2 linked regions of the Homo sapiens genome follow. The protein of the gene in region 2 purifies or fractionates together with the protein of the main gene of each other region. This does not show direct contact. Each region holds a gene or a part of one and is shown on either strand. Other genes may lie near its edges. The genes, in order: DLD and TNFAIP8.

Region 1 (3,825 bases), on a different chromosome or scaffold from region 2:
TTAAACGTGTATTTTTTATTTGTTTTGTTTCATGAAATCTAGCATTTTCCTTTATTTAAAATTTCAGATGATGTTTTACTTTGTCATTTCTACTTACATATCTTCCAGACTTATAACCATCGTAAAGTGTTCAGAGGATATGTTATCACAGTGGGATATAATGTTTTATTTTGGACTGCCTTTTTACCCAAGGTAGACATTTTATAGTGTTTGATAGGTTCTGTTTCTGTGATACAATGATGTTGGCCTTTTGTCAACTATAATTATAAGTTATTACATTTTGAAACTTTAATACTGCCTTTTATAAGCATTAGGTTGAAATTTTCCAGTTGGTGAGTGAAAAACACTGCATATTGCTTCAAGAATTTAGCTAAGAACTAAAGATTAATTGAACAAATTACAGTGTCCGAAGTTCGCTTGAATTTAGACAAGATGATGGAGCAGAAGAGTACTGCAGTAAAAGCTTTAACAGGTGGAATTGCCCACTTATTCAAACAGAATAAGGTCAGTGTTTAATATTCAGATTTCTGCTTTACTTTGAATACAAATTAAACTTTGCATTATAGAGTGATGATATTTGAACTTGGTTACAGGGGAATATTTATTTAATTTAAAATAGCTTGCTAACCTGAAATAGATTTCCCTGACATATATCACAGATTTTTTTGCTGCACCATGGTGTAGCATTACTAAGTAAGGAAGCATTTTGTTTTAGATAAATTATTTACAGAGTAATTTTTCCTTTGAATGATTTATCAAACAAATTACTTTAAACTTTGTGAATTTATAAAGATTATTTTGTAAAGGTTGTTCATGTCAATGGATATGGAAAGATAACTGGCAAAAATCAAGTCACTGCTACGAAAGCTGATGGCGGCACTCAGGTTATTGATACAAAGAACATTCTTATAGCCACGGGTTCAGAAGTTACTCCTTTTCCTGGAATCACGGTATTTATGCTTCATAATTTACAACCATTACAACTTTTCTTTAGAAATACGTTTTATAAGTTATTTATGCTATTTGTGAACTTTGAGAGATTTCTGACTGAAATACTATATTTTGATGGTCATTCAGCTTTGGGAAGTTACCTGTCTTTATTCTGCAGTGATTCTGACCAGCTATAGAACACTTTATATTAAGATATGTTTGAATACAGTATGAAGTTAAAATTGACCATTGCGTTTGGAATATTGGTGGATAAAATTTAAAGTCAGTGTTTTTAATGGGATTTGATGAAATTAGGTATATAGATACCTCAAAACAAATAAATGACTTAGTATTTTTAGTGATTCTACTGAGATCACAGTTTATAAATACATTTATCTCTTCATATCCTTGGAGGATTGGTTCCAGGACCCCCCTTGGATACCAAAACCCACAGATGCTCAAGTGCCTTACATAAAATGACATAGTATTTGCATATAATCTGCATACTTCCTCCTGTATACTTTAAGTCATCTCTGGATTACTTATAATACCTAATACACTGTAAATGCTATGCAAGTAGTTCCTATGCTGTATTGTTTAGGGAATAATGACAAAAAAACCATGTGTACATGTTCAGTACAGATGCAACCATCAATTTTTTTCCTGAATATTTTCAATTAATGGTTGGTTAAATCTGCAAATTTGGAACCCATGGATATGGAGGGTCGACTGTACTAGGTTTTTTCAAATTATTTTGATTATATCTTTTGTTTTTCTTACAGATAGATGAAGATACAATAGTGTCATCTACAGGTGCTTTATCTTTAAAAAAAGTTCCAGAAAAGATGGTTGTTATTGGTGCAGGAGTAATAGGTGTAGAATTGGTAAGTGTTGTCTTTCTGCCTCTTATTACCTCCTTGGAGTTGGAAGGGACTTAAAGGTCCCCTTTTTGATTTTTTGTATAACATTACAGGCTGATCAGCATTGAGTTTTGCTTAAACACTTCTAGTAATAAAGAGTTTACTTTTGTTTTTTTCAAGACAACCTATTTATGTATTTACTCATTTAGAATGTTCTCCTTTATTTTAGTCTGTTTCCTTGTACCTTCCACCCTTCCATTTCCTAGAACTGGTCGAATTCTTTTTTAATATGACAGCCATTCAGATATTTGAGGACAGCTTTTATCCTGGGCAAATTGCATTCCAAATAAAGATTATTCTCTTTACCATCACATACATGATTTGGCTCTTCCCTTCTCTATCCTCATCTTGATGCCTCTTAACTTAGGTTTTAGAAATGTCAAACTACTTGCATTTCTTTGAACACCATGTTATTTTAGACCTTCTGTCTGCCTTGTTCTCCCTTCTTGTCCATCTGGCAGCTTTCCACACATTTCCAATGACCTCCCTCCATTTTAGAGTCACTGTGCCTTGTAAACACCAGGAATTGCTCTACTTCTGAAATAATAAATTCAGATATTTTATTATGTAACCATGACCTCCTTTCCTCTTTTACTCAGTTATTCATAGTGTACTTTGTACCCTTTTTTAGGTTTTCTAGTCCATAGATCTACTTTTTTGCAATCTTCCCTTTCCAATCTTGACTGCGTTCCTGATCAGCTTAGATGCCATAGTCCATCACTTTAACCACACTCTTACAGATGTCCTTGAGTTGCTTGTCTCACTGTTCTGTCATATCTGCTTGGCAAAACTCTAGTTCGGTTTGAATGCAGCAGTCTGCCTTTTTTATGCTATTTCCAGGCTGTTGACTACACCTGGAGAAAAACACACCCTACTCATTGGTACTTGTATTAATTCTTGGCACAAACCTTAACAAGAACCTCAGCCTTGCTGACAGTTTATTATTTCCTAAGATGGTACACTGCCCTGGTCTCTGCAATGGCCATTTTCATTTTCTACTCTTCTCAAATCTCTGCTTGTATACTGTCTGCTCTGCCTGTGGATGACCTTGTCTTTTAAATATTACATAAAAGAGAAATCAGATGAGAACTCCCTCAAGTTGATGTCCTAAATTTGATAATGCTTTTACCTGTTGTTACACCTATCCTTTTGATTACCTCTCCTATTACTGTGGAAATGCCATTTTCCCTAAGACTAATCCCTTTACTTGTGCTTGGTAGCACATCATCTGCCTTTTCAGAGACTTGGTTTTGTGATTTTTATTCTTGTATTTTTCAGTCTTCAAACTCCTTCCTTTTATTTACAATTTCATGTGCTTCTATGTGTGTACCTGTGATGCATTTGCACTCATTAACACAGGTTTGTGTGCACATAAATGCTCCTTATCTTGGTCCCATGTCCTTCTTGAGTTACCAATTTTGTTCGCACTTTTCCTTCAAAACCCAGCTTCTCAAAAGAGTTGTCCATGCTTTATTTCATCAACTTCCACTCACTCAGTCTATGGCTTGTGCCAATAAATTGCTCTTAGGGCATGAATCTATTTATTGCTCAATCTGTTGGACTAATTTCTTCACTGCTTTATTTGGCAGTAATTAGCATTGCTGATTTTCTTGCCTTTGAAACACTTTGCCTAACTTCTGTGATTTCATATTCTTCCATTTTTACATCTGCTCTTTGGGCTGAATTCTCCATATTATGCAAGTTCCCCTTTCTTAGGCTTCCCTTTAATTGTTAGTATTTTTGTTTTTCTTTTTTTTTTTTTTTGAGTCCGAGTCTTGCTGTGTCGCCCAGGCTGGAGTGCAGTGGCGCGATCTCGGCTCACTGCAACTTCTGCCTCCCGGGTTCAAGTGATTCTCCTGCCTCAGCCTCCCAAGTAGCTGAGACTACAGGCGCCCGCCAGCACGCCCGGCTAATTTTTGTATTTTTAGTAGAGACGGGGTTTCACCATATTGGTCAGGCTGGTCTCGAACTCCTG
Region 2 (3,825 bases):
TGCAGCCTTGAACTCCTGGGCTCGAATGATCTTCCTGATTTTCCCAAGTAGCTGGGACTACAGGTGCATTCCACTGTGCCTAATTTTTAAATTTTTTTTGTAGAGATGGGGGGTCTCACTTTGTTGCCCAGGCCGGTCTTGAACTCCTGGGGTCAACTGACCCACCTCCTTCAACCTCTCAAAGTGCTGTAATTACAGGTGTGAGCCATTGTGCCTAGCCTTAATTTTTCCAATGGGGAAACTGAACTTCAGAAAGATTAAGTAGCTATTGAAGGTTGCACAGACAACCAGGAACAAAGTCATGAGTAGGATCAGTCTCCTGACTCACAGGGTCTTATCTCTGTTACCTACATACAATGTCCCCCTGGGAAAGTCCAGCTTCTAGACTGGCCCCATGTACCACTACAACATCACCACGAATGCCCACCATGATCACTGCTCTCCACACTTCTGTAGACATTCTTCCTGATCCCAGCACACAGCATAAGTAGGTTCCCTGTCACTCACTCTTTCTTTTTCTCTTCTCCATTTGCTTAAAGGAACTAGCTGGAATACAAGTTACCCCTCTTTGAAGTCACTTCTGTCCATCATGACTTTTGGTGAATACCCCCTCTTCTAGACTTTCATAGGGTCCACTGTCTGATCCTCTGAGCTGTACTCATCCCTCTCCATCATGTATTTTTGTACTATGGATGCACATGTGCTGTGTGTGATGCCCTGAACCAAAAACTCTCTGAAGATGGGGTTATCTACACACACATTTTTGCTTCTCCAGGCCCTGCAGAGGAGGTGCTATCTCAGTTAACATTTGTTGTTAGGAGTATCTGAGGCTCAAAGAAGGCAGCAGCAGGCAAGGGAGAGGGGCTGCACCCTGGAAGCAGGAGTCTACTGGACAGTCCATGACAGGCAGAACAGCCTGTGCCTCTGGGGACACCCCTGGTCCCCAGCTTCTCAGCCTGGCTGCGTAGGCCACATGAAAACACATATTGAAGCCAGGTGAGCTGGCACCAAGCATAAATGGCAGGTCAAACTGGAAGGAAAATTCATGAGCTGCTTATTCACTTCTTGACAGTCAACCCTGACTTCAACAAATGTGGTCTGGAGGCTTCAGGCACCTAAAGCTATCAGAGCCACGTAGGGAATTCTGCTTATAGTCTCTTTGCTTCATCACCTTCTTAGAAGAAACTCTGTTCCTAGTTACTTATAAAATTAACTATTATTCACTACAAAGCTGGAGAATGTATTATCATTAAGTCCACATAAACACAACTCCTCCCCTCCCCCATCTTCAAAACCATATAAATACCAGCTTAACTAACAGGCTTTACTCAATCTTACAGATTCCCAGGGCAGCACTCCCTTAGGCAATTTATTCCCAACTCAGCAGTTAGTCACTCAGGACATACTACATCCCTGTACCTCTTCTTCAAGGCTTATAAACTTTTAGAATAAAATTTAAGCAATTGCTCTTTCAGATATCTTGGTCAGCGGCTGGGGGGGCAGTGCGCTGCAGCCCCGCAAATGCTTCCTGAGAAAGGTGTCCTGACTCCCAGAGTGCACCGGGCCTGCTGCAATGTGCTCCAGAGAAAGAGAGGCTGTGGGATGTCTGCTTTTGCAATAGCACATTCTGTGTCAGAATGCTGACTCCCTTCCCACCCACACACATACATACCTTCTCCCCAAGGAAGAGTGTCTGTACCCAACCAACACCCTCAATAGCTAATTTTTCCTGAATGATATTCTCAAAGGAATGAAAACAAGTGAGCTCACTGTTTACCTGCCTCTCACTTGGTCTACAACTTTCAAAATCCGGGATCTAATAGGATCTACTTGCAGAGCTAAATTTTATTTCACAATGTCTCATGTTTTATTCTCTTGAGTTACACGTAGAAGGTGAAACAGGAAATCTTCATTTGTTTAAACATTCATCTGCGTTTTATAAATCCCCCCAAGAGGTAGTGAATGACAACTATACAAACAGACTAGGTCTGTCCTACTTCAAGGAGAGTGCATACAAATACCCAGGATGCTAAAACCTGTGTTTGCAAAAATCCTTGCTTGCAGAACATGTATTAAAGAGGATAGAAAGGGCTTGGCAATCACCTTGCTGGGCCTCAGTGCCTCACCTCTAAAATGAAGAGGTCAGAAAGAAGGATTGGCAAAGTCGCTTTTAGCTCTAAATCATGGTGATTCTATGTGTATTTGGTGGGAGAAGGGCACTTTAAATTACAGAAGACTTCTTACTACAGACCTTCCTTAAACATTAAAGATATACATATCATTTGGTTTTGTTTTAATTCAGCTTACACTATGTTTTAAAGAACAATCTTCTCTAAATGAAGACAGGTCTATAACCACACTAATCTCACTGACTTACAAGTTGCTAGCATAAAGACAGAAATGCTGACAAATAAATGATTTATAGGTAAATCCAGCAATTCTGCAGTGTTCTGAAATGCAATCGCTGGGTCCTGAGTTTTTCTGGCTCTACTGCATTCTCTTTCACCCACCCACTTTTTGGCTACTTCCTGGATCACCAACAGTCAGGAGCAGGAAATTTAATCATCCATATAATCCTGACTGTTCAATGGCGTAAGGTGGGGGCAAGAAAGGTAGGATGCATATTCAATATGATAAAAATTTCAGAAGTGAGGGGAAAAAAGCTCCAAATGCATTTAAGTTTACAGAGCTGGAGGTGTCTGGCAATGCCAAGTTATCAAGTGATGTCCACTGTAGAGGAGAGAGTATGATAGATCTCTAAATGGATTTTCCACTTTTAGTCCTTGTCAGCACACAACACTCCAAGCCTAATGACTACATAAAAGGAAACAGATAAGCACGTCAAAGTCCGGTGTTTAAGAGCATATGCTGTACCTTTTACATTATGTATGACATCAAGGTCAGCTATACCCCTTGGTTTCATCAGAGCTGAACCACTGCTTTAACCTCCTTTTCTCTTCATTCCCTCTGCAAAGCAAAGGCTGGGGAAGGGCAGGAATAGGGGAGAAAACTTACAAAATAGTCCTTAGTGATGAATGATATTATATAAGCTGCCACACCATGTGAGGTTAAAACAGAGTACTACACAGTGTGGTAGCTTATAAAATATCATTGGGATTCTTATTACAGAAGAGGATATTAATCACCACTACGGAACAACTAAACTTTTTTTTTTTTGCCAAGGATTAACTTTAAAGAATGGAGACCATTCACTCAATCTACAACATTTAATGAGCACCTTTTACTCTGTAGGTCCTAGACATACAGCGGGGAATAAAACAGACATTGTTTTTCCCTGCAGAGCTTGTGGTCTAGAAGAGATGTTAAGCAGTGTGGGGAGAGCCAGCAAGGAAAGGAACAGGTGCTCTGAGAGAGGGCGACAGGGGATCTGAGTTTAGGTTCAGAAAAAGCCTCTTTAAAGAGCTGACCAAGAAAAGGAGGTCAGGTGGAGAGAAGGATATTTTGGGCAGGAAGACCAGCAAGTGCCAATGTCCTAGAATGGGGAGCTTGAGTTCTTCTATATGCAGAAAAGAAGGAGCCAGGAAGGATATGGGCTGACTGGTGTAGGAGGAGCCCAAGGTGGAAGGCGGGGCATTCTGCAGTAGGAATGACACCTGTTCCACAGACACAGGGAGGATAGATGTGGACGGAGATGAGTCTGTCAGTCTGGGAACAGGACGTTGAGGGAGTTATCTAATGGCTACTGTTTTCTTTGTGAAATAGCAGGCCTGGTGAGGCATGAGAGTAAGAACTGGGTGAGGTGGTGGTGGGAAATGGCTACTATGGGCAATGGAGGAGCGAGCCAGACTCACTCACCACTCAATC

Evidence for each region.
Region 1: the proteins of TNFAIP8 (region 2) and DLD fractionate together in Homo sapiens (co-fractionation; one large-scale study listed by BioGRID). This does not show direct contact.

What each region holds. Positions count from the first base shown.
Region 1 is NC_000007.14:107,904,555-107,908,379, forward strand, and holds part of DLD (dihydrolipoyl dehydrogenase, mitochondrial isoform 1 precursor), read left to right. Parts: intron 1-403; coding exon 404-504; intron 505-806; coding exon 807-950; intron 951-1,712; coding exon 1,713-1,814; intron 1,815-3,825. UniProt on the Homo sapiens protein: Lipoamide dehydrogenase is a component of the glycine cleavage system as well as an E3 component of three alpha-ketoacid dehydrogenase complexes (pyruvate-, alpha-ketoglutarate-, and branched-chain amino acid-dehydrogenase complex).
Region 2 is NC_000005.10:119,358,909-119,362,733, reverse strand, and holds part of TNFAIP8 (tumor necrosis factor alpha-induced protein 8), read right to left. Parts: intron 1-3,825. UniProt on the Homo sapiens protein: Acts as a negative mediator of apoptosis and may play a role in tumor progression.